Linked DNA regions of Homo sapiens: all the other regions are linked to region 1. The links come from fine-mapping of genetic effects on gene expression. A gene starts in region 1. Each other region holds a variant in brackets. All regions are shown on one strand. Distances are between the middles of the regions.

Region 1 (8,184 bases):
ATCCCTGAATCCCTATGAGCTTCCTAGAGAGAAAGATATTCTCTCACATAATCACAGTAGGGTTATCAACAGTCTAAATTCAAAACTGATACAACTCCTTTTATCTGATCTATGATTTACGTTCCAATTTTGTCAGTTGACTGAAAAATATCCTTTATAGCATTTTCTCCTTTAGTTCAGTTTCCAGTCTATGATCAGGCTTTGCGTTTAGTAGTCATGCCTCGTTAATCTCCTTTAATATGGAACATTTCCACGGTTCCCTCTCTTGACATCAGCCTCTCTGAAAAAAGAGGGCATCAGACATATGTGGGTTTCAATCCTGACTTTATCACCTTGGAGCTGAACAACCACAGGCAAGCTACTTCACCTCCCTGAACCTCAGTCTTCCCATCTGCTAGATGGGAATAGTAATATAATGAAATGTGGTGAGAAGTCAGTGAAATCATGCACGATCTGAAGGCACCAAGCAAGGTGCCTGGAACCTAGTAAGTAATCACCAAATTCGATTCATGTAATAAACGTAATATAATTAGTTCTGGTTCTGTCACTTATTTGCTGTATAATCTTGTGAAAGTTGCTTTGCCTCTCAGAGACCTAATGTCCTAGGTTGTAAAAGTGGGGCTTTTCATACCTTCTTCCTGGGATTGAAGGAGATAAACCAGGTAAGGCATCCAGCTCAACGCTGGTGCATGGAAGTGTGCAGTCAATGCTAGTTCCCCTTCCTCTTGCAAATGCTGACTAGCTTCTTAGCAATAAGGCCTCCATTTCCCTTATCAGTGTCCCTTTCATACAGAATTCTCAAAAGGGAAATACACACTTTCTGAACATTAACTACAGGGGCAAAACCCTTACAGGAGGTGCTATCATGTGAGAAGCTCTGAACATCCAAAGATGATAGCTCTTTAAAGGGGAAACCAGAAACTTCACCCTCCCCATGGATGTTTTTACCAAGTGTATTTTGGAATAATCTTTTCTCTGTTGGTCAAACAAACGGCCCTTGTAGGTGTGGTGGGTGTGGTGGAGGTTTGGGGAGTGGGGTGCTGGTGTGCCCAGAGTGGCCATGATTCATTGTTGATTGAAATTAGACTGTGGGCATCCATGTGACCTTTGTGTCATCATGGAAACTCTGATGAGAGTGACTGCCCAAAACAGAGCTCTCCAGGGCTCAGCACCCTCCCTCCTGGAATGTGTCCCAAGGTCTTTCCAGGGCAAGTCGGGCCTCAGCTCAGTGTCACCTCTCCAAGGAAGGCTTCTCTGGGCTCTGCATTTGATGTTGACTTCCTTGTTTTAATGTCTGCTTAGCACTCTCTGGTCTGGCCTATCTGTTTATCTGATTCTTTTGTGTTTCCTCCATTATCTGTAAGCCCCAGATGTCAGGGAAGTTGCCTGTGTTACTCTCCACTGAATGCCCAGCCTAGGTCATGGTGGTCATCAATTTCATTGGTCACCAATATCTGTTGCTTCAATAAATGAGTCCTCTTCACCCTGTTTGCTCTGTGATAATGAAGCCCAGTGAAGGTCTTGAGCCCCATCATGACTTGAAGGGTGGATTGTGAGAGCTCAAGAGTATGTCTGTGGAGGATGCATTAGGACTGAGTTGGGGGGTCATGACATTTGATCCCTGAAAGCAAGAAAACAGCTTCCACTCTCGGATATGGTTTCCTCTTTTCTTTGATTGCAACTGGTTGTCATGATCCCTCCAGTCCATCTTGGGTGCAGAAACCCTGGGGATTGCCAAAGGCTCCTTTCTGAACCATCTTTTCAAACATGCGGGACATTCCCTGTCCAAGTGAGCTGCAAGGACAAAATAGAAATTTGTGGATGCAAAATGAGATTACTGATGTGGTTGCTGAAACTTATAAAACTCCCTCAGTGATAGGGGTTGTGGTGGCCTGTAAAGGGGATAATGATGACACCTTCAAGCTCTCCTTTTATACCACACAGCCGGTGGAGTCAGGACTTAGGTTCGAATCCAGTCAAGCTATATACATCTGTGTGACTTGGGCAGACACTTTTCCTCTTTTAAGTATCAGTTTCCTCACCTGTAAAATAGGAGTGATAAAACCTACCAAACCTGTGAGATGTCCCCATGACAGAGCACCCAGCACAGGCCACGTAAGGGCTTTCCTGATGTAAGCTTAAGCAGGACAGGCTCGGGCTCAGGACTGAGGCCTCTGGAGCCACCCTCCTACAGGCTGGGTGGCCATGGATAATGTGCTTCACCTCTCTGAAGTCTCGGTTTTCTCACCTGTAAATTGGCCGTAATAACACCTAGGGTATATTTCCTAGGGCTATTGGGAGAACCAGTTAGAATATATTTTTCACATAAAATGTCATTCAGGTAATTATGGCTGTTTAAAGCCTTATAAACTTAGATCTTGCCCTTGTAGACAGAAATGAAACAATTGCTGTGACTGGGTCTGATATCATAGCCAAACCCCTACACAAAACAACAGACTTATCATTCAAACAAATCAGTGAAAATAATTGGTCTTGTAAGTTGTCAATACCCTGTGCAACAAAAGCATTGGTGGAATGACCTTGAGCATTAAGGGGGAGTTGTAGGGATATCTTCTAGAGAAAAGATGGAGTTGTCACCTCCCATGTGCTCTGCTACATCTTCTCTTTAACTTTTCCCTTTGCCCAAAGCAACATGGACCATCTGTTTAATCAACCTCCACCACAACTCCATTCCCCAGTAAGCCAAGTCAGCAACTACTCAAATGCCTCATTCTAAGATGTGCTGATGGAGTGTGGCCTGCCTCAGAGGGTCTCTCCCTTCAAATAGGTCTATATTGTCTGGTTTGTTTGTGAACAGAGCCAGGTAGGTGCCGTGTGGCTCAGAGAGGTGGCTGGAAGTGACCTTCCATGACTCAATTCCACAGGTTTGTTTGCAAGAACACAGACACACGAGTGGCCACTGACAATATGTGTTCCAACATTATATACGGGGTATATTTTGCTCAGAAACATGCCCTGTTAGTTGTTGAAACCTTTTTTGCATTCCCTGAAACAAACGACACTATGGTGTATTTTCTTTTGGGGGGCAGTAAATAAAAGTCTTTTATGTTGACAATGATAATATTATATTCTACAATCTATTTGCATTTCTCTATCCTGTGGATTTTATTGCTTAGTATAAATCCCCAGGCTGAGGTGCATTAAGCTTCACTCAGAGAGAAACAATGCATTTTATCATAGGGCCGGACAGCTATATGCACAAGATGCTACCTGCAGAGATTGGTTTTTGCCCAGATGTGCAGGAGAGATGCACAGAGAGGAAGAAATGCATACATGTGTGCAGGTTTTGGCGTGTGCACAAGAAGCCTGGAAGGATTTTCTTTGGATCTACAGTCAAAATGGATTTCCGAGAGGAAGCTGTCTGAAAACACACCTCTTCCCTGTGCTACATACGGTCCCATCTCTGCCAGCCAGGTTGTCAGGAAAGTGATCAGCACTGGCTTCAACTCTGGCTAGAGCTCTTTGGCCAATGTGATGGGCAGAAAACTGGAATGAGGACAGAAAAGCACCTCAGAGGTTTGAAGAGTCTAGTCTCTCACCACCTTGCTGTAGGTTTTCTGAATACTTCTGAGTTTAGGAGCATTTTTTCTCAACAGGCAAGTCAGGAGCTGCTAAGATAAACCATGGCAGTAAGCTCGAGCCAGTGTTCGTATTTGCCATTGATCGGCCACCAAGTGCTTGCTATGTGCCATGCATTGTGCTAAGCACTATCTCATTTAATATTTACAGCAATCTTATGAGGTAGATGCTACTGTTATCTCCATTTTACAGATGGGGAAACTGAGGCACAGAGTTCCACAGCTGGTAACTTGAGGAATAGGAATTCAACCACTGGAGAGTCTGGCTGGAGTTTTTTGTGGTAGGAGAAAATATGCTGTCTAAATTTGCCTTGGGAAACCATCATGGTGGTCACAAAACCACTTCTACGGCTTGCCTTGACCTAGCAGGAATGAAGATGTAAAGAAAGAATGAGCGCGTCATGGTTATGATGGGATGATGATGTCTGTTGTGTTGTTTGGTGTCAGTTTCTGTAACGCCTTTCTATTTCAATCAAGGCTATTATCTTTTCCTCTGTTTTAGTGAAGTTTCCTTGAAGTAGAAAATGGGAGTGTATTGGGCATCTCAGAGTTTTCAGCTGAACTGAAGGGTCTGATGGTAACTTTACCCCCAAATCTCTGAGAGAAAAGCAGGGAGTCCCTGCTTCAGCTCTGCTCAGAAGAGCCTCCCTCACATGGTGGTTTCTGTGTCACTAGACTGGTTAACCAAATGGTTCTTCTAAATACCCAACTTTTAATAGAAACTCCTGCGGCTTGGATTATTAAAGTCCTAACATGCTTATTTAATCGTGTTTCAAGTCCATCTATCTTTTTTGAGTCTAAGGAAGACTCACTAGGTCAGAAGGAGTAGAGGGAAGAGGATTAATACATGATTTTCTTTTTCCCCTTTTTCTTTTAACTTAGGCTGAGACTTATTTGAATGCCTGTTTCATATGGAGCTTTTAAGTGTAACAGTTGTGAGTGAAATTGCCCCTTTTCAAGGTAATTGAATTCCATTTTTCACTTTCCATTTCCCTCTAGAAAAATCAAAACGTTTTCAGAGCTTGGCTTCTTAGTGGGTGATTTTCTAAGGTGGGAACTTTAGAACCATAAAACATTCTAGTGTGGCAAAGGCATTCAGGAACCGGATGACCAGGCCCCTTCTCCGCAGGTGAACAGCCTCCACCAGCCGGTCTTGGAGAACATATTGATTTCACTGTGTTTTTATTTGAAACACCAAAGGAATGCCCATATCTTGTCCTTGGGCCAGGGCTGTGGGTTAGGGGAGCTGGGTTTCTGTCCAGAATCTTGTCATCTGTAGGGCAGCTGAGGGGCATTATTACCCAGAGGTCCCTGGAAACCTGTGCTAAATTGGTTTGGATCAGTGTCCGTGAAAATGTTGGACAAAGGAGAGTCGATTTTAGCTGACACCTGGACACGACTTTAAATAACACTGTATCACGGAGCAACACAATGTCCTCCCAACTCTTTTTCGGTCTTTCCGATTATGTTAGGGACAAAGTCTCAGTTTGGTGCTGTTGTGGTCGAACTATCTTCTCATCTCTGTTTTTTAAAGTCAGGCAGATCAAGCCTTACTCCTAGGGCTTTAGAAGGTAATAGTTTCTGATTTGGATTTAATCACATTGTTTTATTTCCTTTTTAACATTTTTATGACAACTTTTGCTTTATAGCAGTTTTAAAGGTAGGAAAAAATTTTCGTTTGAAAACAAGTTGGTTTGAGATGTTTTTCACTCTTACATAAAAGACCCACCTTCACAGCGTATGAGCTTCTAAAGTTGGGGAAGCAGTGGCTTAGGTGGGCAGGCAGGAAATTCAAGCAGGTTGGTTTCTGCCAAAGTCAGAGATGATTGCCACTTACTGGAAGGCTGTGTTGGAACAGAGTGGGCACAGGCATTGGGAGCAGAGCTGATTTCCAATCTTCCTGCTGCCCTCGCTGCCTGTGTGTGCCGTGGCCTTCTTGAGCTTTAGTTTTCTCACCTGTGGAACAGGTTTCATGAGCAGTTGGAAGGAAGCAAATGAGCTTCATTTTCTACAACAGGGTGGGTGGTGTAGTTGATATTCACCCCAAAGGTGCAGGATCCCCACTTCTGTTTATTGCCAGCGCTCCGAGTTTGCTTCTGCATGGAAGGGGAAGATGGACTAGAGCTGATACCTCCTGCACCCTGGTGAAGAAATGCACCCTGAGGCCAGAAAATAGTACAAACCCATCTGGCTGCAACAGTCCAGCAGCATGAAGATCAAAGTCACGTGTGAGTTTTGTGCACGGGCAGCCTTTCCTCTTCTCAGGCTGCAAATCTTTGGCAATCGGAGGCAGGCTCTGAATTAAGCTTAATTAAAATTCACTCTTAATTAGGGCCATTACTTAAAATCAATTCTACATAATAAAGCTGTGTAATCATAATTAAGCCCCAGAAATGGGATTAGGAAGCACAGAATGCAAAAGCCAAACATGGGTGAGCCTGGTGCTGGCAGGGGCAGTGGCAGAGACTTCTCGAGTTAACAGAATTTTTAAATAGCCAAGGCCCCGTGAGTGCTCTGATGAGAACCTGGGTGGCAGGCAGCACAGTGAGCTAATCAGAAAAAGGATTTGAGATGAATGGGCCCCGAGAGGCAAAGCTCCATGGTGTGGTGTTACTGGCAAGAGAAAGGAGCGGCATAAAACAGAGGGGACCAGATGAGTCTCCTCTCCAGGCCCTGTTTCCCCAGCTGTGAAATCAGGGTGGAGGGCAGCTGTTTCCCAAACAAGGATGTCTCTAATGACTGTCTGCAAACTCAGGACCCCTGATGTGGGGCTCTCTTGAGGGGATTTCATGGCAGCAAAGTCAGGATCGATGCCATCTGCTCGTAGCATGACAGGGGTCCTGTGGAGTTGAGTTTTGTAGTTGTTGGCATCATTGAGGTGGTGGTTGTCTATTTTTTAACTAATGAAGGGGGGGGGTGTGAAGTAATATTTGACAATCTCTTACTTCCACACTGATGAGCACATAACAATTAGGAGCTTGGTTTTGGAATGAGCCAATCAATTTTGAATTTTAGATGTGCCAATTATCGGCCAAGTGGTCTAGGGCAATATTTACTTCACTTTTCAGTTTATTCAACTGTTGTATGAGATTATAATAATAGTAGATACCTTGAAGGTTGTTCTGAGAATCATGCATATGTGTATAGCGCAGTGCCTGCCAAATAACAACTAATTTTATATTGTTTCAATGTATTTATAGTGTTAATTATATTTACATTTTGAATTGGCTGTGCATCAAGCACTGTTCTGTTTTATATGTATGAGCTAATTTTATTTTCACAATCGCTCTGAATAAGCATTATTATTTTCTCTGATTTCTAGATAAGGAATCTGAGGCTCAGAGAGGTTTAGTTCCTTGCTTAAGGGCGCAAAGAAAGTAACTAGCAAATAATAAGAGCCGCATAAATAATATTATTATAAGGATACTATCTATCTGTATGTGCTCAGAAGCTACAGTGAAATCCCCGGGGAAGTGGCTTACCTGTACTCATCCCCCAGAACGCAAGCCTGTGCTTCTAACCCTGCCAGAATAAGGCCAGGCATTTGAGTTCAGAGCGAAAGGGTCTACCAGGTGCGGATTCCGGAGCTGTGGAATTGGAGCCGGGAGGGAAAGCCAGAGAGAGCTCCTCCCCATATCTGTTTTTCTTTAATTATTTTATTTTGTTTTATTTTATTTTATTTTATTTTACTTTACGTTACGTTACGTTATGTTATTTTATTTTAGAGATGGAGTCTCTCTATGTTGCCCAGGCTGAACTCAAGCTCCTGGGCTCAAAGGATCCTCCTGCCTCCATCTCCTGAGTAGCTGGGATTGCAGGTGCACGCCACCATGCCCAGCTCCGTATCTGTTTTTTGATTTAGTGTTTTAGTTCAGAGGGTGCCTCACACCTCTCACGTCACATATGTGAGTGCTAACTGTGTGCCTGATGCTGAGTTGGCCTGGACATACACTATCTTATTTAGTTTTTACGACAGCCCAGAACGTCAGGAAGTATCACTCCCATTTTGCAAATGAGGAAACTGAGGCTCAGAAAAGCAAAGCTCGTTGACAAAAGTGAAATATATCATTTGACCCCAAATTGGCACAGAGCTGGAAATTGGGTTTTCAATCCATTTCATCAAACACTATGCAGTTCCAGAAAAGTTGCTCAGGCTGGGGTGCCTCCCAGACTCTGCCTCTGCTCACAGCCAAGTCAGCTCAGCTCAGCAGGAAGGATCTTTTTTTTTTTTTTTTGAGTTGGAGTCTTGCTCTTATTATCCAGGCTGGAGTGCAGTGGTGCAATCTCGGCTCACTGCAACCACCTCCTCCAGGGTTCAAGCAATTCTTCTGCCTCAGCCTCCTGAGTAGCTGGGATTGCAGGCGCACACCACCACGCTCAGCTAATTTTCTCTATTTTTAGTAGAGACAGGGTTCCACCATGTTGGCCAGGCTGGTCTTGAACTCCGGACCTCAGGTGATCCGCCCGTCTCTGCCTCCCAAAGTGCTGGGATTACAGGCATGAGCCATCATGGCCACCCAGGACTTCTCTACAATTAGATTTAGAACAAAATATGCCTTGGTGCTGGAGATGTCCTGCAGTTCAC
Region 2 (8,184 bases), 48 kb before region 1:
CACCTAGCAGATTAGTCTTAAAGGAAGTGCATTATCCTGTTAGGGTTCCTAGGTGAGTTGTGACCCACATCTAGAAAAATGAGTTAGGCTTTTCCCTCTCTAGCAAGCAATCAAGGCTGGGGCGATCCAGGCTATGGCTGCAAATATTGGTTGCTGAGCCTTTATGAGTGTGAAGGTGGCAGTGAGGACACAGCAGAGAGATCATGAAGGAACTCCTGTGCCATGCTGCAGATCCCACCTCTAGACACCATGAACCGTGTCTGACCTCCTGAGTCCTTATGTTTCCTAACACTATTAATGACTGGGGGTGAAATAGAGATGCAGAAACCAAAACCAAAACCAAAAACAGAGCAACCCGAGGCAAGAATATTGTAATAGTGACTATTTAAATGACCCCTTCATATGAAGTTAAAAATATATGCATTTCAAATTACATATATATATATATAGATATGTAGATATATATATATATATATACACACGCATGCACATATTTTATCTATTTTTTTTTGAGATGGAGTTTCCTTCTTGTTACCCAGGCTGGAGTGCGGCAATGGCGCAATCTCGGCTCACTGCAACCTCTGCCTCCCAGGTTCAAGCAATTCTCCTGCCTCAGCCTCCCAAGCAGCTGGGATTACAGGCGCACACCAGCACGCCCAGCTAATATTTTTCTATTTTCTAGTAGAGACAGGGTTTCACCATGTTGGTCAAGCTGGTCTCAAACTCCTGACCTCAGGTGATCCACCGGCCTTAGCCTCCCAAAGTGCTGGGATTACAGGGGTGAATTACTGCACCCGGCCCATATTTTATCTTTATCTATGGTTTGTTGGATGTTTATGAGGAATTTTTTCAAAGTTCTATAGCAGAAATCATTAAACTAATTGCCACATTTACATTTTTTCCCCCCACAATCCTCATCACTTGAAGAGGCAGCATATATTATGCAGATAAAAAAACTGAAAGTGAAGTTCCTGCTTTTCATTCCAATGTTGACTCATCTCCCTATCTTGACTCTTTCAGGACTTTCTGTCTGTGTCAGATATTATTGACTACTTCAGGAAAATGCCACTTCTGCTCATTGATGGGAAAAACCGAGGTTCCAGATACCAGTGCACATTAACGCATGCTGCAGGGTACCCATAGCAAGTTATAGCCGAGCAAATGAACCGTCCTCCTGCCTCTGTTGCCAACACGAGATCAATCAGCCTTGGTCAATGGACAAACACTTAGGACTGAACTGAACCCCTCCCCATGAACACAAGGGTTTTATCCTTTCCTTTAAAAACAGTGTTTGAAATGAAGACTGTCAACTATCCCATAATTTATTTATTCTTCTTCAATGTTTGTAAAGTGCATGAGTCATGTTCACACTTGAAGTCTAGTAGTGCACTGTAATAATTCATTTTTTAAAAGATTATTTAATGCCCATTTCAAAATACAGTAGTTTACACAGCTACAGAAACAATTTGGGGCAAGTTTTAAAACACTGAAACAGTAATAGTTATTGGTGTCACATAAAACTGATTTGTTTTTTACAGCCAAACCTCTGTCAGTCAGAGGCATTCATTAGTTTTATACATGTAATTTGAAAATCACTAAACCTCGTTTTCTCAGCAGCAATAATTTAAGAGGCTTCAAAAATATAATTTCACTCTTATTTAGTATTTTTTCCTGGGGGCATTTTTACGTAATTTTTTTATGAAAAGACAAATGCATGTTGAGATAACTTCTGGGATTAAAATAGTCTTTTGCTTTACTTTTTTGGTTTCCTAAAACAACTTTATTGACTTTTAGTCCATACTGTTATATTTTTGTCTTAAAGAAAATTTAAACTACAAATACCAAAAGAAAACATTTTAAATTTAGGGATGAGACTTTGGTGTATCGTGGGTCTAGGTTTAATGAACACATCTGGGGTTAAGTTGGCATTTCTTCACATCTCCACACCCACACCAACCATCACAGCCCCCCACCAACCTTCTCCCAACCCCAAAAGCATTGTCCAGGGATATAGATTTTACCAAAGGCTTCCTGGGAAGACGAGGGAGCAACACTTTAGATTAAATGTGATCAGACTTTCCTATTAGATATGGCTCTTCTGTCTCTTGTTATCCCCCTGACAGCTCTGCCATAAAGTCCCTTCTCCTCATCCTTCCCAAACAGGCTGTATAAGTGCTTTGAGGTAATTAAACTCTTTCCTCCAGTTTACAAATATCACTTAACAAAAAATATAGGCATTCAGCCAGATTAAAAAACTGGTATTCAGCCAAATAGTGACAATCAGTTGTTCTTCAAGTTTTTCCCTTTGGGACCTTGGTTGTTATTGCACAACTTTTATTAGCAACAATTTTTGGCGTCTCTGCTTAATCTACAAGTTTTCGAAATGGAAAAGAGTATCTTGCAGCTTCATTTTCATGAGCTAATAAAAGGGGTATTGGAAGGAATCTAAGAAGTCACCATTTTAAAACTGATGATATGTTAAAATAAGGAGTATGCAGAAGGTAGAGACTTTTAACTGATGATAAAAATGGTGTTTCACAAAATCTCATCCTTAACAACCAGAAGTTCTCAGTTTAGGGTCCAAAACTTGGGAGTTTAAGGCTGAAAACCCTGCATTCATTTACACGTCTACACAACGGGCTATTCAGCAAGTATTTACTTAGTGGCTCTTCTGTGTTAAACAAGTGAGCTAGGTACAAGGTAGTAAGGATAGCATACACCATAGGTTCTAGTATCGAGTAAGCTCCACTTGTCTTGCTTTGCCGTATTCTATCTTTACAATTCAAAAATATCTAAAATGAAGGACCTGATAGATTTCAAAGCAACTATTTGGTAGCGAATCATGTTTATAAAACAAACCAAAGCTCATTTTAAGTCTATTAGTGGAAAGTGCCATCAGGATTAAGATGTTCTGTTCCATGGCTATGACTGAAATCAATGTTGGGAAGCTAATGTTTTCATGACTAGCATTCTCTCTCTGTTCAAGCACCGACAACTCCTTTTGGCTGGGCCTTGCCTCTTTTGGCCACAGACCTTCTATATGACCCCAGGTGCATCAGTCACAGTTGCTCAGAACCCTGCTCAGTGATAAACATCTTACTAAAGCTGGGTCAATCAGGGTCACTCTCTGGAATGTTAAACATGAAGCCTGAGACAAGATCTCTCTTTTATCTGGGGTCCCCAAAGGCAATGCTGTACACTTGGAGCTGCCTGCTGCCCTGCAACTACTCCCATTTACCAATTATCTGGAAGAACCAGTCTAC[A/T]ATAGAAGACAACGAGGCCAACACACAAAAACACAGTAAAAGTATGGACAAATTAGTGGGATCCCTGAAATCTATTCCAACTATGTGCTTCCAAGTCACATGACTCAATAAATGCTTCAGCTGGTTGAGTTGTGCTTGGCGTTCACTACCAGGAGAGTTCTGATTAATAAAAACTCATTCCATCAATTAATAATTTAGTAGCTCTCTTTCAACCTGAGCCAAATTCAAGCATAAGCTAAAGGATAAGCAGTGACCCATGGCCAATTTCCTATGTCATACACTTGCCATTAGTGACGTAAGTTAAGCCATTCTTCAAAACATTAAACAGCCTTCAAGAACATGAACTGCTTGTTTACATTATTTTTATTTTGTTTTAAATTATATATATACAAATTAGTAAACTCAACTCTCCCAAATATTTGTTAGTTCAACAATAAAACAGAAACTCATAACAAATAAGAAATCAGATAGAAAAACTGTTAGAAACAAGGGATACATCTGATATTTTAGACTCTTCAAAGAGGGGGTTGTTTCTTTCTGCTTCTGCTAAGTTCTCAGTCTTGATGGGATGATTAAAATGTAGGATAAGGTCACAAAGCAATAACTGGGAGAGCTCTGTGCAAAACAAAACAGGAGATATTATATTGTAGCACATATGTCATAAAAAACTATTATTGCTTTAAGTAGCTATTTCTTCCTAATTCCTAATTTCCAAGTGATTAGTGATCAAACCACAACTTAAGTGTGTCCCATTCTGACTTAAAATAAGATTTATGCTCTCGAGGAGCCAAGATGGCTGAATAGGAACAGCTCCGGTCTACAGCTCCCAGCGTGAGCGACGCAGAAGACAGGTGATTTCTGCATTTCCATCTGAGGTACCGGGTTCATCTCACTAGGGAGTGCCAGACAGTGGGCGCAGGTCAGTGGGTGCGCGCACGGTGTGCGAGCCGAAGCAGGGCGAGGCATTGCCTCACTTGGGAAGTGCAAGGGGTCAGGGAGTTCCCTTTCCGAGTCAAAGAAAGGGGTGACGGACGCACCTGGAAAATCGGGTCACTCCCACCTGAATATTGCGCTTTTCAGACCGGCTTAAAAAACGGCGCACCACGAGATTATATCCCGCACCTGGCTTGGAAGGTCCTACGCCCACGGAGTCTCGCTGATTGCTAGCACAGCAGTCTGAGATCAAACTGCAAGGCAGCAGCGAGGCTGGGGGAGGGGCGCCCACCATTGCCCAGGCTTGATTAGGTAAACAAAGCAGCTGGGAAGCTCGAACTGGGTGGAGCCCACCACAGCTCAAAGAGGCCTGCCTGCCTCTGTAGGCTCCACCTCTGGGGGCAGGGCACAGACAAACAAAAAGACAGCAGTAACCTCTGCAGACTTAAATGTCCCTGTCTGACAGCTTTGAAGAGAGCAGTGGTTCTCCCAGCACGCAGCTGGAGATCTGAGAACGGGCAGACTGCCTCCTCAAGTGGGTCCCTGACCCCTGACCCGGCTAACTGGGAGGCACCCCCCAGCAGGGGCACACTGACACCTCACACGGCAGGGTATTCTAACAGACCTGCAGCTGAGGGTCCTGTGTGTCAGAAGGAAAACTAACAAACAGAAAGGACATCCACACCAAAAACCCATCTGTACATCACCATCATCAAAGACCAAAAGTAGATAAAACCACAAAGATGGGGAAAAAACAGAACAGAAAAACTGGAAACTCTAAAACGCAGAGCGCCTCTCCTCCTCCAAAGGAACACAGTTCCTCACCAGCAACAGAACAAAGCTGGATGGAGAATGACTTTGACGAGCTGAGAGAAGAAGGCTTCAGACGATCAAATTACTCTGAGCTAACGGGAGGACATTCAAACCAAAGGCAAAGAAGTTGAAAACTTTGAAAAAAATTTAGAAGAATGTATAACTAGAATAACCAATACAGAGAAGTGCTTAAAGGAGCTGATGGAGCTGAAAACCAAGGCTCGAGAACTACGTGAAGAATGCAGAAGTCTCAGGAGCCGATGAGATCAACTGGAAGAAAGGGTATCAGCAATGGCAGATGAAATGAATGAAATGAAGCGAGAAGGGAAGTTTAGAGAAAAAAGAATAAAAAGAAATGAGCAAAGCCTCCAAGAAATATGGGACTATGTGAAAAGACCAAATCTACGTCTGATTGGTGTACCTGAAAGTGATGGGGAGAATGGAACCAAGTTGGAAAACACTCTGCAGGATACTATCCAGGAGAACTTCCCCAATCTAGCAAGGCAGGCCAATGTTCAGATTCAGGAAATACAGAGAACGCCACAAAGATACTCCTCGAGAAGAGCAACTCCAAGACACATAATTGTCAGATTCACCAAAGTTGAAATGAAGGAAAAAATGTTAAGGGCAGCCAGAGAGAAAGGTCGGGTTACCCTCAAAGGGAAGCCCATCAGACTAACAGCGGATCTCTTGGCAGAAACCCTACAAGCCAGAAGAGAGTGGGGGCCAATATTCAACATTCTTAAAGAAAAGGATCTTCAACCCAGAATTTCATATCCAGCCAAACTAAGCTTCATAAGTGAAGGAGAAATAAAATACTTTACAGACAAGCAAATGCTGAGAGATTTTGTCACCACCAGGCCTGCCCTAAAAGAGCTCCTGAAGGAAGTGCTAAACATGGAAAGGAACAACTGGTACCAGCCGCTGCAAAATCATGCCAAAATGTAAAGACCATCGAGACTAGGAAGAAACTGCATCAACTAATGAGCAAAATCACCAGCTAACATCATAATGACAGGATCAAATTCACACATAACAATATTAACTTTAAATGTAAATGGACTAAATGCTCCAATTAAAAGACACAGTCTGGCAAATTGGATAAAGAGTCAAGACCCATCAGTGTGCTGTATTCAGGAAACCCATCTCACGTGCAGAGACACACATAGGCTCAAAATAAAAGGATGGAGGAAGATCTACCAAGCAAATGGAAAACAAAAAAAGGCAGGGGTTGCGATCCTAGTCTCTGATAAAACAGACTTTAAACCAACAAAGATCAAAAGAGACAAAGAAGGCCATTACATAATGGTAAAGGGATGTATTCAACAAGAAGAGCTAACTATCCTAAATATATATGCACCCAATACAGGAGCACCCAGATTCATAAAGCAAGTCCTGAGTGACCTACAAAGAGACTTAGACTCCCACACATTAATAATGGGAGACTTTAACACCCCACTGTCAATATTAGACAGATCAATGAGACAGAAAGTCAACAAGGATACCCAGGAATTGAACTCAGCTCTGCACCAAGCGGACCTAATAGACATCTACAGAACTCTCCACCCCAAATCAACAGAATATACATTTTTTTCAGCACCACACCACACCTATTCCAAAATTGACCATATACTTGGAAGTAAAGCTCTCCTCAGCAAATGTAAAAGAACAGAGATTATAACAAACTATCTCTCAGACCACAGTGCAATCAAACTAGAACTCAGGATTAAGAATCTCACTCAAAACCACTCAACTACATGGAAACTGAACAACCTGCTCCTGAATGACTACTGGATACATAACGAAATGAAGGCAGAAATAAAGATGTTCTTTGAAACCAACGAGAACAAAGACACAACATACCAGAATCTCTGGGACGCATTCAAAGCAGTGTGTAGAGGGAAATTTATAGCACTAAATGCCCACAAGAGAAAGCAGGAAAGATCCAAAATTGACACCCTAACATCACAATTAAAAGAACTAGAAAAGCAAGAGCAAACATGTTCAAAAGCTAGCAGAAGGCAAGAAATAACTAAAATCAGAGCAGAACTGAAGGAAATAGAGACACAAAAAACCCTTCAAAAATTAATGAATCCAGGAGCTGGTTTTTTGAAAGGATCAACAAAATTGATAGACCGCTAGCAAGACTAATAAAGAAAAAAAGAGAGAAGAATCCAATAGACACAATAAAAAATGATAAAGGGGATATCACCACCGATCCCACAGAAATACAAACTACCATCAGAGAATACTACAAACACCTCTACGCAAATAAACTAGAAAATCTAGAAGAAATGGATAAATTCCTCGACACATACACTCTCCCAAGACTAAACCAGGAAGAAGTTGAATCTCTGAATAGACCAATAACAGGAGCTGAAATTGGGGCAATAATCAATAGTTTACCAACCAAAAAGAGTCCAGGACCAGATGGATTCACAGCCGAATTCTACCAGAGGTACAAGGAGGAACTGGTACCATTCCTTCTGAAACTATTCCAATCAATAGAAAAAGAGGGAATCCTCCCTAACTCATTTTATGAGGCCAGCATCATTCTGATACCAAAGCCTGGCAGAGACACAACCAAAAAAGAGAATTTTAGACCAATATCCTTGATGAACATTGATGCAAAAATCCTCAATAAAATACTGGCAAAACGAATCCAGCAGCATATCAAAAAGCTTATCCACCATGATCAAGTGGGCTTCATCCCTGGGATGCAAGGCTGGTTCAATATATGCAAATCAATAAATGTAATCCAGCATATAAACAGAGCCAAAGACAAAAACCACATGATTATCTCAATAGATGCAGAAAAAGCCTTTGACAAAATTCAACAACCCTTCATGCTAAAAACTCTCAATAAATTAGGTATTGATGGGATGTAATTCAAAATAATAAGAGCTATCTATGACAAACCCACAGCCAATATCATACTGAATGGGCAAAAACTGGAAGCATTCCCATTGAAAACTGGCACAAGACAGGGATGCCCTCTCTCACCAGTCCTATTCAACATAGTGTTGGAAGTTCTGGCCAGGGCAATTAGGCAGGAGAAGGAAATAAAGGGTATTCAATTAGGAAAAGAGGAAGTCAAATTGTCCCTGTTTGCAGATGACATGATTGTATATCTAGAAAACCCCATCGTCTCAGCCCAAAATCTCCTTAAGCTGAT
Region 3 (8,184 bases), 25 kb before region 1:
AGATCCAATAGAGCAGTGGCAAGCCGATTCAGTACTGTTCCAGAAGGCCATTGCAGGCCTGGAAGCTTCCACACAGCCTCATGTGGGAGGGATTACCCAACCCCGGTTTCTGATAAAAGAACTATCTCAGCTGTGGATCATCATTTGAATAAAAATCAAATGACTTAGGATCTGTCCAAAATGAAGAATGTTTTAATACTTTGTGTGTAAAAACACTGATATTTTGCTTCTTTTTTATTAAACAGATTTTATTATTTTTCAGAATCTTGTCAGCATAATCATTTTATGGGTGGATGAAATATTCAGCCCTGCTGCTGCAGGAGTTCTTTCACAGCAATTACCTTGTGGCACTTTTGCTGTAATTAGGTTTTCGCCTAGGATTTTTCCCTGGGTCTGGGTAATAAATGAAATATGACCAGAATTTAAATTTGTCAATTACAAGCAAGTGTAGTGCGTAAACACACAACAGAGCCATGAATTCCAAACCACAGGCTGTTGCTGGGGGCCAGATGCTCGGAAAATTAAAATGGAAATAAAACTACTGACTGGAAAACGAAAAGTGGCCCCCAAAGAAAGCAAATCTCCCCTAACACTCATGCGTGATTCTACCCAACTGTGCGAGCTCTTGACTACAAATTCTTAAGCGTGAAACTGGCAACTCAAGAAACAAGCAGGGATTTGCATTAAAACCGTCTACGCAGGGCTCTGATCTCCTGCCTTATGAACTCCTGTTTCTTGAGGCCAGATCAAACAGTTTTTGGACATAGTGGGCCAGGGTTCCATGATGGTGATGTTCTCTCCAAGCTGCTCAAGGACTGCCAGAGATTTGGGCACAGGATCGGCTATCTTTCAGCAGCTGCTGTTTTCGCTGACCTGACTTCAGTAATTGCTCCTATGGGGCCCTCTGCTGGCCATCTTTTGCAGAAAGGGAAATCTTAGGGATCTGCACTGTTGGAGACTTTGACAAATAATGTTTCATTAAAACAACCACCAAACAAAAACACACTTTTTTTTAACTTTCATATATAAGAAGCCCTAGACAAGGGAAAAGGAAGTCACAATTTTATAAACTTCCCAAGTGCCATGCATTTAATATTCATACAACAAACCTTTCTTGAGCATCTGTTGTGTATCAGACACCATGCTAAGTTTGAGGCATGTAGGGGTGAGCCATGGAGCTCATGGTCTGGTGAAGGAGACAGACTGGAATCCACACATCACACAAATGCATATTAAGTGAGGATTCAATTAGAAGCTATCAAGGAAGGAAGGATGTCCCAGTGGGGACGGTGACACGGCTGGGGCAGCTTTCAGGGAGGGCTTCCCTGGAAAGGGAACATTTGGGCTGAGATGAGAAGGAGAAACGAGCATGATAGGCAGAGGGAACAGCATATTTCAGGCCCTCATGTCAGGAGGCATCCTGGCAGATGGGAGAGCTTGAAAGAATGTCAGCAAGGCGGGGATGCAGGGAGTGAGGGGGAACCCAGGGTGAGATGAGGCTGGAGAGGGAGCAGGGGCCAACCATGCTATGCAGAGGGTTACATTCTCTCTCCTGATGCCTGTAGGAAGCCACTGAAGGGTGTTAAGCAGGTGACGAATGGGAGGTAGTGGGTGGTATGCTCATAATTGGAGTTTAAAAAGGTGATCCTGGCTTCACAATGGAGAACAGATTGGACAGGAGGAAAGAATAGATATGAGAAGTCCAGTTGGGAGTGTATTGCAGTCATCCATGGGGAAGATGATGGGGCCTTGTTTAACATGTTGGCAGAAGAGATGGAAATGACATTACAGAAATGTTTAGAAGTAGAATCAGCACAGACTCCGTGATAGGTGACACCTGGTGATGGAAGAATGGGATGCTAAGCATGGCCTATATGATCTCATTTAATTGTGAGAGCCTTGGAAACAATTCATATTCCCATTGTATGCCTGAGGAAATTGAGACTCAGAAAGACTCAGGGTTGGACTCCAGATTACTCAGCTGGGAAATGGCTGGGCCTTATGCCTTATAAACCAAAAAGTATCTGAGACAGATCTCAATCAGTTCAGAGGTTTATTTTGCCAAGGTTGAGAACACAATGGGGAAAAAGAGACACAAGCCACAGTCGGATCTGTGGCCCTATTTCTTCCAAAGAGAATTTTGAGGGCTTTGATATTTAAAGGGGAAAATGGGTAGGATGAGAAAGGGGAAAGAGAAAATAAAGGGAGGATATGGTCACATTCCACACGTTGTAGTGAAAAGGAGGGGGTAGAGGAAATAGTCAATTATATGTTTGTCTCATGCTCAGTAAATCTGCACTTTACATAAGATAAAGTAAACATGGAGTAGAGGAAGCAGTCAATCAAATGCACATTTGTCTTGGGATGGGGAGTGGGGACAATTTCTAGTCTCCTCTTGTCCCATACCCATGAAGATAAGCTGTTGATTTACATTGTCAGGGTGAGGAAGGCCTTCTGTGGAGACATGCAACCTTCTATCTGTAGCTATCAGTTTAGAAACAAAAGCAAAGGCAGGTCTTTTTGTTTTTTGTTTTTGCTTTTGTTTTTTGTTTTTGTTTTTGTTTTGTTCATGACTCAGATTCCAGGATGAGCCCTTTCCCTTTGGCACAGTGAATTTGGGGCCCTGAGATCTTATTTTCCTCTCACAGCCTTCTATTCCTCCATATTGTTTCTAGGGTTGCATAGGACATTTGCTTAGAAACTCCTCTCCCTACATCTTGTTATCTATCCCCTCCATTCTTGAGACTACCTCGAATGGTTTGCCATGTTTGTTTTCCAATCTGCCTCTCCCACTAGACCGAGCTTGTTGAGGCCTGCAGTTGTGTCTAGTTTGCCTCTGTTCTGCAAGTGCTTAGTTCCGTGCCTGGCTCACAATGAGATTACTTGCTGAGTGATTGAGAAACTTTCACCAGTCTCCGAAAGAAGACAGACATTTAGAGGGCAGGGTGGTTTAAATTTTTCTCACTGGCCTAATTCTCTCTTGTACCCAGACCACAGTTTTGGGATTTAGGCCGGAATGCCCAAAAAGGACTTTTAAGAAGGAACTGGAAGTTTCTAGAAACCTAGTGTGGCCAAAACAAAACAAACAAACAAACAAACAAAAAACAGGCTTTAGAATCATGAGGCTCTGGATCTAAATCCTAGCTCCTCAATTAATGAGGTGTGCATCCTCGAGTTACTTATCCTCTGTAACTCTTCAGTGTCCTCATGCATAAAATGAGGATAATTTGAGTAGCTGTATTTAGTTAATAGGGCTGTTGGGAGGATTGCATTTGATCTGTGCAAAGGGCTTGGCACATTAATATATAAATTTCCTGTTTTTGTAGAAAAGAAGGATAAGAATGCTTATGGCTAGCCAAGAAAGTGGATGGGGCTGGGAATTTGTCTCCACTTGACCTTAAAGTTTCCCTCACTTACTGACTCCTCTTCTTGTGGTTTATTCTGGAAGGAGGAAAGAGGAAGTTGGCTCTCTGGGGGTCCTCAACAAGCTGACAGATGTCCCCTAAGGCAGCTTTCAACAGAGAGCTCTTTATTATTATTATTATTATTATTATT[C/ATTC]TTTGTGATTTACAGTGTGTGTCTACGAGCCTCTGGGCACAATCATGGAGCAGGAATGGAACTAATAAATTGGATCTGTTTCCAGCTTAATTCATGGCTCTGACAAAATTAGAAATGGAGACAGATGGGAGAGCCTAAACACAAAAAGTGTCCCTAAGCCTAGGTTCTCAGGTGCACGAGACAGCAGGCAGAACACTCTCCGGCTAGAACTGCAGTTGGTGCAAGACAGATCACATAGATGGAGGAGAGGAGACTGTGGACACCCCAGAAAGCCACAAATCTTTCCATTCCAAAACTGTTTGACTTAGGGATCCAGGCCTCTGGGATAATATACGCATGGGTTCAAATCCCAGCTGCACTGCCTATTTCTATAAGCTCGAGCAAGTGGCTGAAGATCACACAGCTGGCTATTGCAGTACTGGCTTCAGATGCAAGTCTGATCCCAAACCTGTGGCTTTTAACCATTATATGTACTATGTTGTTTATGAACATAGTTTGTCATATTATGATTGCACAACTGTGAATTAATTCCTTCAAATCAATACATTGTATTCGGAAGGAACTCAAGAAATACATGCTGAAAGTTTTGCTTAGATTATTTTCCCCCTGAAATTCCCTTGCTCCCTCAATTCCCAACCACAAAACAATTATAATGATCACTGGAAAAAGCATTTTAGAGAAATGCGTCTTAAGATCTTCATGAATTACTAAATTCACAATGTAAAGATAGATATCCTGGCTGTCTCTCAACTCTTATTTTCTTCCAAAGCCATGAGCTCTCTGGGCAAACCCTCATGTCATGTATTAACTGCTGCCTGTTCTTTTCCATTATCCTAGGCCCACTTGTCACAAACTAACAGGATGTTGATTTCCCTAGTGGCTCCATAGGTGCTGCAGGGTCAAGTGGGGGTGAAATGGGAGAGTGGGCAGTGGTGGGGCTCCCTCCCTTCCCCCATCCCAAGGGCAGCAGGATTCAAATTCTCACGTCAGCCAGGTGCCAACTGGCCAGGCCACTCATTAACCTTTGGGGTGCTTTCCCATAGTCAAAGCCAGCACAAAGCCAGCAAATGCCAGGAGCCCGCCACAGTATTGCAAGTCCCCCAAGGGCCATTCCTCCACCAAGGCCAGGCCCCATCCTTGTTGGGTCACAAGCACCCTCTTAACATTTCCAGGCTTATATTTTATCATAGTCAATTTATTATTATTATTATTATTATTATTATTATATATTTTTGCGATGGGGTCTCACTCACACCCAGACTGGAGTGCAGTGGAGTCATCATGGCCCACTGAAGTCTCAGCCTCCTGGGTTCAAGTGATCCTCCCACCTCAGCCTCCCGAGTAACTGGGACCACAGGTGCGCACCACCAAGCCCAGCTAATTTTTTTAGTTTTAAAATTTTTATAGAGATGAGGTCTTCCCATGTTGCCCAGGCTGGTCAATTTGTTTCTTTTAATGGAAATTAATCCTAGTTACAAAACCAAAACCATCATGGAAGTCTCAGAAAAGCACTCAAAAAGAAAAACAAAAACATTACTGGTAATCTCTCCACTCAAGGAATGTAACTGCTAACATTTTATTTCAAAACCTTCAGTCATTTCCCCCCTTTTGTTGTACAGCTTTTGAAAAAGGATTTTGCGTCCAAATGTTCTTAGGTTTAAGAAAAGGGGAGAAAAAAGTACTAATGTTATCCTTCCCAGAAAGAACTCGAGTAATCCCTATTATGTAAACTCTTTCAAAGAAACAGTCTGTTCAATACAGTTGCTAAGTCGTTTGTTGCTATAGCAATACTTGGCCCTAGAGCGCCATAAACAACCATCCTGACTCTAGCCTCCAAACACAAGGCCCCATTATCTCCCTCAGAGCTCTTCGAGGAGCTCATTTTGCCAAAGCTATTCATTTAAATTAGTAACTCCCTTCTTAATCACTTGAATTGCTTGTGCTTCACACCAAGTCACACTAGGGGGCTAAAAAAGCAGTTAGGGCAATATATTGGGATGCAGAGAGTTGGGGTCAGTATGCCTTTGATTGCGCAGATCTTTCCTTCTGGTGCTCTTCCTCAGCCGCTCTCACAGTCTGCCGTCTTGGATGCTGGCCACCCAGGGCAAAGCAAGGTTAGGCTAGGTGCTTCTGGGTGCAATGCCATTATAGTGAAAATTCTGGCAACACCATATTTAACCAATCCCAGGTAACTTTGTTGCATTAAAAGAACTAAAAAAATCAGAGAACATTCTGGAAAGCTCTTTGTAATGTTATATTACAGCTGCAGAATATCGTAACTGAAGGAAGATGTTCTAAGTGCTCAATATGTATTATTTAATTTGATTCTGGCAACAACCTTGTGGATTCAGCCAGCATTTCTCCTTGGTTTTACAGATGAAACAGTGGGGGCTTAGAGGTATTAAGTGACTTGCCCAAGGTCCCTGACTAGAAAGTGGTAGAGGCAGTTGGTTTCAAACCCATGCTGTGTACTTCACTCAGAGCCTGTTCTCTTGACCTTTATGTTACATTGCCTTGCAGCAAATGGATAGACATGTGTGGAGCTCTGACTCGTTGCACAAAATACAAGGGATTTAACATGCATTGTCTAAATGCTGTGATTGGTCTGGATAGACGTTATCACTTACATTGGTAGGTAGGGGAGCTAAGACCCAGAGATGTGGTGCTCCCAGGGTTGGCCAGCCAGCTGAGGTATAGAGGATTTGAACTCACCTCCCCCTGCTTCAAAGTGCTTCTTCCTCTACACAGCATAATTTTGTACCTAGAAATCACTAAGCCTAATGCTCTCTTTTTACAGATGAGGAAACTGAGGCCTGAAAATATTAAATGGCTTGCCCAAGGTCATTTCTCAAGGTCTAGAGCATACCTCCCTGCAGCCTGACAAGGAAGATGGAAGAGAATTCATCTGTGCTAAGCTGTTCTGGTATGCAAATGGCCCCTTTGCATTCATCTGAGTCCCAGGGGTGTCTGCAAAAGCAACTGCACTTGAAGAGTGTCTGTTTAATGTGAGATGATAGTGGAATCTTCAACCACTTCTACTGTGAGCTGGGCCATCTCGTCTCCCTAACCTGGCTTTGTCAAGCTGTGTATGCAGAGAAATCCACACTGGAAGTGCAGCATCTGGTGGGTACCCCGGGGGAAGAATGACATCTCTAATGTTTGGTCCCATTTGTTACTCCTACTCCATCCCTGCTGATGGCTGTGGCTCCTGTCGAACAGCCCTCCAATGTCCTCTTGTTACATCTTCTGGGCACTGCTTTCTCCCTGTGCCCCTTTCAGGCCTAGAGAGAGCAATGGTGCCCTACTGTTTTTAGCCTTGGGGTGGGGGGAGGGGCTTCCTCATAACTTTCTCCTTTATCCAGTCTTGCCCACACCATGGTAAATTGTCTCTTTAATAAATTACCCAATTTGAGCGTGCCCTCTCTTTTCTGCTGGGACAGTGACTGAGTCACTCCTCCAGTATTCCCTGATTCATCACCCCATTTATTTTCTTCCTGATACTTACCACAATCAGGAAGTGTTTCATTTATTATATATTTGCTTTTTATTGCCTTTCTGTCCTCCAGAATGTGAGCTTCAAGAGGATCTAGAAGCTCACTGGTTGATTATCTAAAGTCCGGATGACCACATTCACAGCCCAGCTGTGACAATTTACTGCAAAGCCTGTAAAATGACTCATTGCAACTGAGTTGGTGGCTCAGTTGGTGGCTGCCTCAACTGAACAGTCCCTTCCAAAGCTCTTTTCAGGGTGAGAGTAAAGGTTATATTTCAACTCCACACCCTTAGGCCCTGGATGCTATTTCTTTTTCTGGATTTTTCCTGGATAATTTCCACTGCAACAATGATGATGGTCAGGACCACGGTGATCATCTTGCTGAGCTCACATTCATTTCAGCCAAGAATTTGCATCCACCTACTGTGGGGCTGGATGGTGCTGTGGCTTCCAGGAAGGGGAACCCATCGCAGATGGATGCTCTCTACCTGCCTGGGCACTTTTTGAGGAACTGAGTGAAACTTCCATTTGCCTGATAAAAAGAAACAAAAACCCACCCATGGGTTCATCCAAATAATGTGTCAAAGGCTATTCAGGAGGAGCTCTGGGCTCTGTTTATTTGGTGTGCCCTCCCCTCCCATCTCCTCCCACTTTCTTCTCTTCCCTTCCTTTCTCTCTCTTTCTCTTTCTTCTCTCTCTTTTTTCTTTTTTGGAATAGGTGTGCTGAGGTTGGCAATCAGATGGGCAAAACAGAGCAGTTTTTGCAGGTAGAACAGCCCCTGGCTGCTTTCATAACACTCACAAGAGAGCAATGATCCTGGCAGGTACTTTTGACATTTAGGGCCTGCTTGGTACAGTTCTTACTGCTCAGCTCTTCATCATAGCTGAAAAAGCCCTCCAAGACACTGCCTGCTTGCCAGCCTCTCTCTCACACCTCTCCAGCCTACCCAGCCAGCCATCTGCCAGTCCCCAAATACACCAGCTTGCTTCATGTGGCTCTGCTTTTGCCTTCAATGCTTTCCTTGCCTGCTCTTTTCCCCTTGTCTCCTGGCTGAATGCCACTTATTCTTATTCTTCCAGACACAGATACAGTCGGTGTCTCACTGAGGTTCTCAAATACTTGCTCCTCAAAGTGT

Which allele goes with the higher level. Alleles are on the strand shown, and positions count from the first base shown. SD is a standard deviation of normalised expression in the study named. Not every link is listed here.
In carriers of allele ATTC in region 3, the expression in naive CD8 T cells of the gene that starts at base 3,170 in region 1 tends to be lower than with C alone (large effect, 1.1 SD a copy in Schmiedel 2018).

What was found.
Region 2: its variant is fine-mapped to the expression of LINC01187 in whole blood (TOPMed, PIP above 0.99).
Region 3: its variant is fine-mapped to the expression of LINC01187 in naive CD8 T cells (Schmiedel 2018, PIP 0.91).

The regions. Positions count from the first base shown.
Region 1 is chr5:170,194,127-170,202,310 of GRCh38, reverse strand. LINC01187 (long intergenic non-protein coding RNA 1187) reads left to right here and starts at 3,170. Exons shown (of 5, transcript NR_108022.1): 1 at 3,170-3,569; 2 at 4,482-4,559; 3 at 5,680-5,827.
Region 2 is chr5:170,241,656-170,249,839 of GRCh38, reverse strand. C5orf58 (chromosome 5 open reading frame 58) reads right to left here. Exons shown (of 4, transcript NM_001102609.3): 4 at 3,609-3,878. The coding sequence ends at 3,727. LCP2 (lymphocyte cytosolic protein 2) reads left to right here. Exons shown (of 21, transcript NM_005565.5): 21 at 1,021-3,607. The coding sequence ends at 1,143. Among named protein-coding and RNA genes, the nearest start is that of C5orf58, 13 kb to the right of the region's middle. The variant A/T (reference allele first, on the strand shown) is at 3,264.
Region 3 is chr5:170,218,751-170,226,934 of GRCh38, reverse strand. No RefSeq gene overlaps it. Among named protein-coding and RNA genes, the nearest start is that of C5orf58, 10 kb to the left of the region's middle. RefSeq lists an enhancer at 6,362-7,561. The variant C/ATTC (reference allele first, on the strand shown) is at 3,556.